Linked DNA regions of Homo sapiens: region 1 is linked to region 2. The links come from fine-mapping of genetic effects on gene expression. A gene starts in region 2. The other region holds a variant in brackets. All regions are shown on one strand. Distances are between the middles of the regions. Region 1 holds the start of ZFP28 (ZFP28 zinc finger protein). Region 2 holds the start of ZNF470-DT (ZNF470 divergent transcript).

Region 1 (5,370 bases), 28 kb before region 2:
TGGCTGGAGCAGAAGCGACTTTGCCCACATTCTGCATTCATGATAAACAGTTTGCTGTTTGATCATATAGCCTCCAGTGGAATGTTGAGTTGGCCACGATCCCTTTGCCAGCTCTCTACAGCTGTTCTACCTGTTGACATCCTGTGTCATACCCAAGCAGGAAGAAGGTTGTGTGAGATGACAAAAGGCCAGAGTTACATGCCAGCTGTGTCTCTTTCCACACATCCACCAAACCCCCAGCAAATGTGTACTTAAAATTCATTGGTTACAGAGCCACTACTCCTTACAAGGAGACTGGGGAGGTGAGTATTATAAGCTGGGCAGATGGCCACTTGAAGAGCATCAATGTTCTGCTGTGGAAGGAGTGCAAAATAGACACCAGAGAGACCATTAGCAGTGTCTGCCACAGCTATTACATGGCTAGGTCCACCTGACTGAAACTAAGCCTTTTCTATGAGACTGAAGTGCTTTGAGAGAAATGCTGACCTTGTCCTTTCTGCAGCTTGCGGCTTTCAGTCACCCTTGGATTCAGAGATAGAAGTCATCTTAATTCCATCACTGAGGCCAGGAGACCTGAAAGAAATCAATTCAAGAGTAAGGAGACCAGGCGTGCAGTGTGACTGGGCGTGCAGAGGTCAGTGCATCTGTGATGACTGGTGTAACAGCATCACTGCCTGTGAGCCAGCAAGGCCCTTGGCTCCCAGGATGAAGCTCTCCAGTTCTGATAAGGCCCCTGGGGGAGAGACCGGTCCTAAACATGTTCAAGAATAAATCCATCAGCTAACTTCAGACCGTGATTCACACAGGAAGGGAACTTTAAGAGGTCGCCAGGGCTGGTATTTTTGAGACGTTAGGCAGCCCTCTCTGAGGCGATGACAAGTGAATGGCATAAAGGAGCCAGCCCAGACGAAAATTTGGGGTTAGACTATTTCGACCCAGGACGTGCAAATACATAGGTTACAAAATGGAAAATGGTATTTTGGAGGATGGGAGGCCCGTGTAGCCAGAGATAATGGGAGAAGGTGAGGGGGCACCCAAAACAATCCCACAAGCTCTCTACATCCCCCTTCCTAGCCCACACACATCACCCATCAGAGTGATCCTCCGGACTCCGGAGGCCCCCAAGATTGCCTTTCCCTTCCCGGTCGGCAGTGACGCTCCCGCAAGGAGCTGACGCCCAGGCCCTTAGCACCTGTCACAGCCAAGCACCCTTTTACTCCGGCCCTGCGGTCCCACCCCTCGCCGCAAGCCCCGCCTCACCCGGTCTGCCGCTGCGCCTGCGCGACTCCCAGAAGCCTTTGGGGGGTGGGTGTGTAGTCAGAGCGGCCTCTGCTTCCGGCCACACCCAGGCCCAGCGTTGGCCACCACTTATGCGGCGGCTGCGGTCCAGGGACAAGTGAGAGCGACCCGCAGAGGGCAGGACGGACGGGCGTTGCATAGGCCCGGGGCCAAACCGTATCTTGCAACCTGAGCTCCGAGGGCCGCCGCATCCGTCCCTGCTTGGGACTACGCTTCCCAGCGGGCATTGCGCCGAGGCCACGCCCGGTTCCGGCGGCGCTGCCTGCGCACTGGAAGTGGGAAGCGCCGGGCTTCTCTAGGCTGAGGGGCGGGGCGGGGCGGGGCGGGGCGGGGCGGGGCGGGGCGGGGCGGGGCGGGGCGGGGCGGGGCAGCGGGGAGGGGTGGGGAGGGGCGGGGCGCGGCCGGGGGCGGGGCGGCTCCGCGGCGCGGCCCAGTGGATGCCGGGCCATGGGGGAGCGCGCGCGGGGCTGTTCGCTGGGCGTGGCGGGCGGGTGTGGCCAGGGGTGTGGGTCTGTGAGGGACCGGTCGGAAGGGCGTCGCGCGGCCTCGGGTGACATGCGGGGGGCGGCGAGCGCGAGTGTCCGCGAGCCGACGCCGCTCCCGGGTAGAGGCGCCCCCCGCACAAAGCCCCGGGCGGGCCGAGGCCCGACTGTAGGGACTCCAGCCACCTTGGCCCTCCCTGCCCGGGGAAGGCCGCGCTCAAGGAATGGCCTCGCATCCAAAGGCCAGCGAGGAGCGGCCCCTACGGGGCCTGGGCACAGAGGTGAGAGTGACAGGTGTTTGGGGCCGAGCGGACAGGGACGAATTCATCTCGGGATGAGATCTGGGAGGGGGTTGGGCTCTCGGGGACCAGTTGCTGGAGAACTGTGCCCCTGGTCTTTGAAGCTGGTGGAGTGGGAGAATCTGAAGATTTGGAAGCTCAACTGATTCAGAGCAGCAAGCCGCGGTAAAAGGGTGTTGACTTTCCCAGGGTGACTCTAACTAGACGCTTTTCCTGTTTTCGTGCTCCCAGGGAGGAAAAAAACCTATCTCCACGTTGTGGCAGTCCCTAGGCAGGGTAATGATCTGATCCCACCTTTTCATGCAGGAAGGGACGTTTCTAGGCTGGTGATTTGGGACTGTGGTGTAGACCTGGTCTCTAGCTACTCCTTTCTCTTTCAGCTCTGCCTTCCAGGGACACTGCTCTTCCCCAGGAGAGAAACAAGAAGCTGGAGGCTGTGGGGACAGGAATTGAACCTAAAGCCATGTCCCAGGTGAGTTGGCATTTCATCTCTTGTCTCTGAAATGCAGTCTTGCTTTTCGGGACTTAATGTTGCTTATTTTCTTGAAAGTTTTCAGTTTAAGAGACCTGTTTGGGCGCGGGTTTCTATTTCTTCACGTTCTAGTGAAGTGATGGGCTACGGGGAAAAGTTTAAACTGCCCGGGGCCTCGATGCCTGCTTCTTCTTCATCCCAATCAGCCTTCATTCTTGATTGATGAAATGATTCAGCCTCTCCCTTGTACCGCTTTTCTCAGAGGGACTCTGATGGAGGAATTGTGCCCCTTGAGGAACACGGCAGAC[T/C]CTTCTGCTATACATGGTTTGTTTGGTGACCACTTTGTGCCAGCCACTGAGCAAACCAATAGCTAAGCCCTAGTCCCTGCTCTGGAGCTCACAGCCTGTTGACCCAATGTCAAGGAAACAAGCAAGATTCTAGAATGTGATCATCCTTGGGCCAAGTATTATGAGCGAGGACTACAAGGCGCTCCTGGCTTCCAGCCTCCTGTAGCGGAAGGGTAGGCCTATTTACCAAGGAGGTGATTTTTGAGCCTTGCCTTGAAGGGAGAGAAGATGTTTGGGAGGCACAGTAAAGAAAGACAACATTTTAGGGAGAGGAGGCGCAATATGAAAGGCTTTTCCACTTGATTTTGTGGCTTTAAAACATGCCAGTAAATAGTTGTGTTTGTTTCGGTTGGCTTCTCCTATAAATATCATAGCTAGCTCATTAATAGATGAACCATTTCACTTCCACTGAGGCCTCAAAAAATATATGTACAGATGAACCAGCTTCCAGTTGTCCTACCCAAACTGCTCTTGAGTGGGTTACTGTGATCTTCACATTACCAGATGCAGTGCTCAATTCTTAGTCTTTTTTGACTATCATTGGTATTTGAAATAGCTCAGAGGCTGGCAAACTTGTGCTGGATGAGGCCACAGCAGAAAATATGTTAGGCTTTGAAAGTCCTGCTGCATCTACTCCTTTCTGCTCTTATAGAGCTAAAGTAGCCAAAGACAATATGTAAATGAATGGATGGGCTGTGTTCCAGTAAAACTTCAGTTACAAAACAGGTGGCTACCTATCCCTCAAATAGCTCATCCCTGTCCTTCAATAGGCCCCCTTTTTTCCCTTGGCTACTGGGATCTCACACTCATCTGACTTTCATCTTCCTGACTGCTCAGTTTTTGCCACAGTTCTTACCTCCGTGACTTGAACAGAGTGTGCCTCAGCACTCTGCTCATGGCCCTTTCTTTTTTTGTCTGCATGCTGTCTCCTGGGGATAGTAGCCTGTTCCTTGTCTGTACAACCTACCCACATGGTGGCTCCTCCCAGATTCACATTGTGAGCCCAAACCTCTCCTCTGAGCCGCCGGCCTGTGTATCCTGCTCCACTCCTCTGCCTGAGTGTCTGATGGGTAACTCAAGACAGCCTGTCCAGACCCGAAGTCCTGAGAGTCTCCCATAAACCAGCTCCTCCCACAGTTTGAGTCTTAGTCAGTGGCCGTTTCATCCTCTCAGTTACTCAGTCCGGAAGCCTTGTCATGATTGGCTCATTTCTTGCCTTTTCCTTCCATATTTGGTCCTGATGCAAATCCTGTCAGTTCTATTTGCAAATTATGTGCAGAATCTGGCAGTTTTCATCACATCTATCACCAGCAGCAGGTCCAAGTCCTCCTTTTACTGTGGGCTTCTTGACTGTGCTTCTGTGACCTCCTGCTTCTGCTCACGCTCCCCACAGCCCCTTCCCGATGAGCAGCCAGAGGGGTCTATTCAAACATGTCACCTTGTGTCACGCTGTGCTCAGGACCCTCCAGTGGTTTCTCTGAATAAAAGCCAAAACTCTTCCTGTTACTGACCAGGCCCTACATGACCTGGCTCCTTGTTACCCCTGACATCTACATCACTCTCTTCTTTCTGAAAAATCGCCTTCTCATTTTCCTGCTCACCCTGTCTAGAATTTCAGAGCCTCCTACCTGTTCTTCACATCCCTCTTCCCTGCTTTGCTTTTTTCTTTTAGTACTTTTCTTTTGAGACAGAGTTTTGCTCTGTCACTCAGGCTGGAGTACAGTGGCGTGATCTCGGCTCACTGCAACCTCCGCCTCCTGAGTTGAAATGATTCTCCTTCCTCAGCCTCCCGAGTAGCCACCACACCTGGCTAATTTTTTTTTTTTTTTTTTTTTTTTTTTTTTTTAGAGACAGGGTTTCACCATGTTGGCCAGGCTGGTCTCGATTTCCTGACCTCAAGTGATCCGCCCACCTCAGCCTCCCAAAGTGCTGGGATTACAGCCATGAGCCACTGTGCCTGGCCCTCGTAGTACTTTTCAACATACTATATACAGAAATCCCACGTATACCAAAATTTGCACTTATTCATCAGCCATGTGGAGCCTGCAGATATGAGAAGTCAGCCCTCAGTGGACACAGGTTTTCCATACCACAAATAATCTTTTTTGAGACAAGGTCTCACTCTGTCACCCAGGCTGGAGTGCAGTGGTGCCATCACGGCTCACTGCAGCCTTGACCTCCCCAGGCTCAAGCAGTGCTCCCATCTCAGCCTCCGAAGTAGCTGGAATTACAGGCATGTGCCACCATGCCCAGCTAATTTTTGTATTTTTTGTAGAGATGGGGTTTTGCCATGTTTCCCAGGCTGGTCTCGAACTCCTGGCCTCAGGCAACCGCCCGCCTTGGGCTACCAAATTGCTGCGATTAGAGGTGTGATTCCCCGCGCCCAGACAATAATTGTATTTTCAGTCTGCATTTGGTTGAAAAAATTTGCATATAGGTGGACCCTTGCAGCCCAGATCCATGTTGTTCGA
Region 2 (5,370 bases):
GGATATTCTGTTCTTTTTCTTTTTTCATTCTTTTTTTTTCCTCTTTGTATTTCAGTTTGGGAAATTTCTATTAACATATCTTCAAGCTCACCCATTCATTTCTCAGAGTGTCTTAGTCTGAGGGGCTCACTAAAGGTAATCTTCATGTCTGTTACAATGGTTTTCAATTGCTAGGATTTCCTTTTGATTCCTTCTTACAGTTTGCATCTCTCTGCTTACATTACCCATCTGTTCTTGCATGTTGTCTACTTTTTCCAAGATGCTTCTCCTTCTGTGGGCTTCCCTAAGAACTCCTTCTTAAATAGAGTCTGTGCCTTGCAGTTTTCTCTGTTGTAATCTACTGTTATTGACCAGAGCCCCATTAGTGTGGCAGTGAGGTACAGTGGGGAGGGAAGCATTCTATAATCTTATTATTAAATACTATTTTTCTAGTGGGCTTGAGGCCTTGGACTGTGATCTTCAGAAGCACTTCTTAGCCTTTCAAAAATCCTGCCTTACTGAGACAGACAGGCTATAGAGGGACTGGAGCTGGCCAATTGCCTCTCCCCAAGGTCCAACAAGACTCTAGTAAGTAGTTTTTCTTGGAGTGCAGGTGTTTATTATGGAAAATGTGGTGCTTACTTTTCTCCTCCCCTTGCCCAAAAACCTGAGATTTTTCCCCATTCTTCACTGAGAGAATTTGATAGGGTTTCTGGAGGTAAAATTCACGAAAGTGTGGGGGCCCATCTAAGATTGGGCCCCTAGGAGTTTTTAACTCACAAGTTAGCCCACACTAAGCCTCCAGCAATTCATCAAAATTATAAAAAATAAAAGTTTTTACCAGTTTATAACTCCAGTGGCTTCTGCTTCAAGTAAGCTAATCTTGGCTGTAATTTTATGTATTTTTCTTTCTCGGGATTTTGGGGTGTCAGTTACCTTTCTATCTTCAGTTCTCTGATGGATCTAAGAAAAGTTGATTTTCAGTTTGTTGAATGATTTTGTTGTTGTGAAGATGGGAATGAAGGCTTCCGAGCTCTTTATATGCCAGAGCTAAAATGAGAATATTATCATTTTCATCCAACTCAAATAACCACAAACGTTACAAGCTCTAAGATGATATTTGCTGTTTCATAGTTAAAGTATCTTCACAGCTAGACTTGGCTTTATTATGTTGTTTATGATGTCTGACATAAATTGGATCCAGGAGAGTCCAGTCTAGATGTCACTGTGTGGCCTTGGGTGATTGAGTGTGACTGGGAGGGTGAGTTAGTTTCTGGTGAGCCAGTATCTATGATGCTGTATCTTGGTCAGCTGGGGCTGCTATAACAAAATATCATAGACTAAGTGACTTGACTAAGAGACTTTATTTTTCACAATTCTGGAGGCTGGGAAGTTAAAGTGCTGGCACATTCAGTTCTTGGTGAGGGCCCCGTTGGCTTGCAAATGGGTTACATCCTGCTGTGTCCTCACATGGCCTTTGCTTGGTGGTTGTGTAAACATGGAGACCCCTCCTTCCTCTTTTTTAATAAGTGCACTGACCCCATCATAAGGGTATCACCCTTATGACCTAATCTAAAACCAGTTACCTCCCCAAAGTCCCACCTCCTAACGTCATCACACTAGGGGTTAGGGTTTCACCATAGTAATTTTGGGAGGACATATTCAGCCTATAACATGTTGTGTCATGGTGAGACTGGCAATGCTAGATTTCGTGATTTCCTAAAAAATAAAATAAAAATAAAAAACTAAGCACCTACTATGTGCTGTTTTAGTCACTGAGAATATAACCCTGAACAGGACGGAAGCTGTGTGCCTTCTTGGAACCCTCCTTCCAGCAGGGAGAGATAAAATGGGGTGGGGGGAGGTGAGGGGCGTACCGTATATCAGAGAGCAGTAACTAGTAGGCATGAAATAAAACAGGTTCCACACGCGCACCATCAGAAAGTCACAAGTGTGCAAAGCAGACAAATCCCAATCTCCTCACTTTTCTATCGCGTAGGCCCCGCCCGCGCCCCAAGCCCCGCCCTGTCATGGTTTTCCTCTCCAGAGGGTAGCCGCTACGCCTTACCGACTGCGTTTCAGTGCTGTCCCACTGCTCCTGCACACCCCACGCCTGCGACCCTACCCACCACGGACAGGCGCTCCTGCGAGCTGGAAGCCAGTTCTCTGCGTCCTGAGCCTGGCAGCTGCATCTGAACACTCGGAGCCTGGCGATGGCTTCCAGAAACCCCTGCGCCGTGGGTCGCTTCAGTGAAGGGGCCTGTACTTCGGCGACCCAGACTCCGGGCTGAGAGGCCTCCTAATCCAACCAGGAGGACCAGGAGAGGCCCAAAAGGGGACACAGGGCAGTGACCGCCAGGCTTGGAGAGGAGCCGCTCCTGGCAAAGCCAGCGCCCTATTTCTGAACGCCGCCTCCGTTCCGGACTACACTTCCCAGGGGCTATTGCAGCGGAGGACACGCCCACTTCCGGAAAGGACCCAAAGCCGGGCGAGTGCACGTCCCGCCGGTTGCTGAGGAGAAGGGAGGTCTGGGCGGGGCAGCGGCCGAGGCTGGACTGGGGCGCGGCGGGGGCGGTGTCCTGGTTCCTGTGTGGGCGGCGGGCGTGAGCGTGCGCGTGTGGCCTGGTGGCTGTGAGTGCCCATACGTGGTGAGCGTGCGGTGCTGTGCTGAGGAGGGGCGAGCGCGCGCGGGGATGGCGGCCCGGTGTGTGACTGTCCGGTGCGTGGCCGCGAATCTGCGCCTGCGTGCATGGCCCGGCGGCGTGCGGAAGGCGGTGTGTGTTGGAATGAGTGAAGCACTTTAAGTGGCCAAGAGCAGGAAACCCGGCCGGAGGAGGCTTACCCCGTTCTCCCCTGTATCGACTGCGTAGAGCCCAGTGTGGGCAAAGTCCTAGAGCCCGGGGAAGTTGCCCGGGCGGGGCAGCCTCGGCTGAAGCATTTCCTGTCAGCCCTATCTGGAAGGGGCAGAGCCCAGGACAGGGCTCCATGTCCACAGGACGGCGAGGAGCGAAGACCATGGGGACTGAGTACACAGGTAAGAGTGACAGATGACGGATGTGGCTGCCGGAGTGGACATTGAGGTTTTGGGTGCTGTCTTTCGGGGTTCAGGTGCTGGAGGAGGATGTCCCCCGTTTCTAAGGCTAGTGGACCTGGAAGTCGAAAGATTTGGAGGGTCACCTTGGGTCAGAGTGGAGCTGGGTTTAGTTAGGGAGGGACCTTGACTTGGCCAGAGACACCTAACCAGATAACCTGACTCAGGTCCTTGGTATATCACTAAGGGCCCATGGGAGAGAACACTACCCGTAATATTACCCATTATAGCATTACTTCTGGGTACTCTGCTGCTGTTGAAGGAATAGCTCAGCATTTAGATTTTTACCCGTCAGAGCCTTGTCCCATCTATCACTGTAGGATTTGGGAAGAAGGCGAGATTCACAGCTTCACCCAGAAATGCCGAGGCATTCCAGCCTTTCTATGGCTTAATCACGTTCTAGTCAATAACGGAAGATATCCCCATTCCTTGGGCTTCTCTCCCTCCCCTCTGGCCTCCCACTCCAATAAAGAGAAAGGGGGAGGAAGGGCTATTTTTAGCCATATTGTTCTGTGCTTGTTTAGTTTCCTGCATGCTATAGTAATAGCTAATGTTTAATGAGTGTTTATTATGTGCCAGACACAGTTCTAAGACCTTTTGGGAGTATCAGCACCAAACTTCACAACATTATGAAGTAGGAACTACTTACCTCTTTTTTACAGATGAAGACACAGAAGCATAGAGAGGATAAGTAATCACTAGCAAGTGGAAGAACCGGGATTCAGATCCAGAACAGGCTGACTCCAGAGTCACTGGCTGTCATGTAGTTTCCTCAACTACTGCCTCAGGTAGGTTTCTTAGCCACTTTTGACAATTAAAGAAACTGACTCTGAAAGGGTTAAATAACTAAATAGTTCATATGCCAGAACCTCCACTGAGCAGGTTTGGGGTTTTTTTCTTAAAAAGTTTATGACTCTAAGTTCTTAGGTAAAATGGAGATGGTAATATTATATACCTCACAGTACTGTCATAAGGATTAAATGACCTCATACATGTAAAGCACTTGGTATAGTCCCTGCCATGTAATGTGTTCATTTTTATCATCATTATGATAATCCTTTGAGAAGGCAGTGGAATTTAGATGAAAGAAACTAGAATTAATTCAGATACTTTATCCTCTTCCTTCCTAATTAAGGAAACATGGCTCAGTGGAGTCAAGGGACTGCTTCAACACTGTAGTTTGTCACAAAACAAAATGAGATCCTAGGCCTCATGAGGATTTTTTCATTTGGTTGTCTGCAAGTCACATGGACTCTGTTGTAACGAAAGGAATGCCTCTCTCTGGAAAAGATGGAATTCTCCATGGAATTTGTCTTATAGAATGTTCACAAATCCTGGCCAACTGCACAGAGGACTTATTTTCTGTTATTTTCTGGTATATGAGCAAATAACTTCTGTGATAGAGTCAGCCAGACCTAGGTTGGTGACTAGGTTATTTACAAATTTGTGTGACTTGTGGAAAAGACTTGACTTCCCAGAGCTTTCTTGTGTAAAATGGTGACAATATACCCGATTCTGTTTGAAGATTTTGGAGATTTAAAGACAGTATTAATATATGCAGCACAGACATGGTGGCTCATGCTTGTAATCCCAGCACTGTGGGAAGCCAAGGCAGGAGGATTGCTTGAGGCCAGGAGGTTGACCAGATACCTAACTCCAGGAGGTTGACACCTCCTGGCCTCAAGCAATATAGTGAGCAATTGGGCAATATAGTGAGACCCCCATCTCTATCAAAAGTAAAAAAACTAGCTGGGCATGGTGGCACATGCCTGTAATCTTAGCTACTTAGGAGGCCTAAGCAGGAGGATCCCTTGAGCCCAGAGTTTGAAGATACAGTGAGCTATGATCACGTCACTGTACTCCAACCTGGGCAACAGAGTGAGTCCCTGTCTTAGAAAAAAAAAATGTACACACACACAGGCTAGTATTAATAAATCTGTTGTTAATGAATTGGTGGCTGATGGGGAGAGGGGGTCAAGAGATATTATGCTCATCCTGAAAACCCAGAGCAGAGGGGAACCCCAGCTATATATTTCAAGTCTCCCAAAGAGCATCAGGACTGTGGGGTGGGGGAGTTGGAGTGAGGACTGTGAGTGAGGACAGAAGAAGCTGAAGGGAAGAAAGCATTTTCAGACTTTGATTATTAGTGCTACTTGGTTTCTCACTACTTCTTTTTCTCCCCAGCTCTACAATCCCAGAGTAAAGCTCTTCTCCAAATGAAGAGCCAGGAAGAGGTAGAGGTGGCAGGAATTAAACTTTGTAAAGCCATGTCCCTGGTGAGTTAGTATTCCCCCTCTCCC

Evidence for each region.
Region 1: its variant is fine-mapped to the expression of ZNF470-DT in whole blood (TOPMed, PIP above 0.99). The same link has a PIP of 0.9 or more in caudate.

What each region holds. Positions count from the first base shown.
Region 1 is chr19:56,537,165-56,542,534 of GRCh38, forward strand. ZFP28 (ZFP28 zinc finger protein) reads left to right here and starts at 1,784. Exons shown (of 8, transcript NM_020828.2): 1 at 1,784-2,062; 2 at 2,461-2,552. The coding sequence starts at 1,855. It overlaps ZFP28-DT (ZFP28 divergent transcript), which reads right to left and starts at 1,570. Exons shown (of 3, transcript NR_183967.1): 1 at 1,261-1,570; 2 at 487-573. The variant T/C (reference allele first, on the strand shown) is at 2,861.
Region 2 is chr19:56,565,026-56,570,395 of GRCh38, forward strand. ZNF470-DT (ZNF470 divergent transcript) reads right to left here and starts at 2,996. Exons shown (of 2, transcript XM_047439806.1): 1 at 2,048-2,996. The coding sequence starts at 2,996. The coding sequence ends at 2,058. ZNF470 (zinc finger protein 470) reads left to right here and starts at 2,443. Exons shown (of 6, transcript NM_001001668.4): 1 at 2,443-3,013; 2 at 3,733-3,858; 3 at 5,255-5,346. The coding sequence starts at 5,287. RefSeq lists enhancers at 2,123-2,172, 2,183-2,392, 2,773-2,882.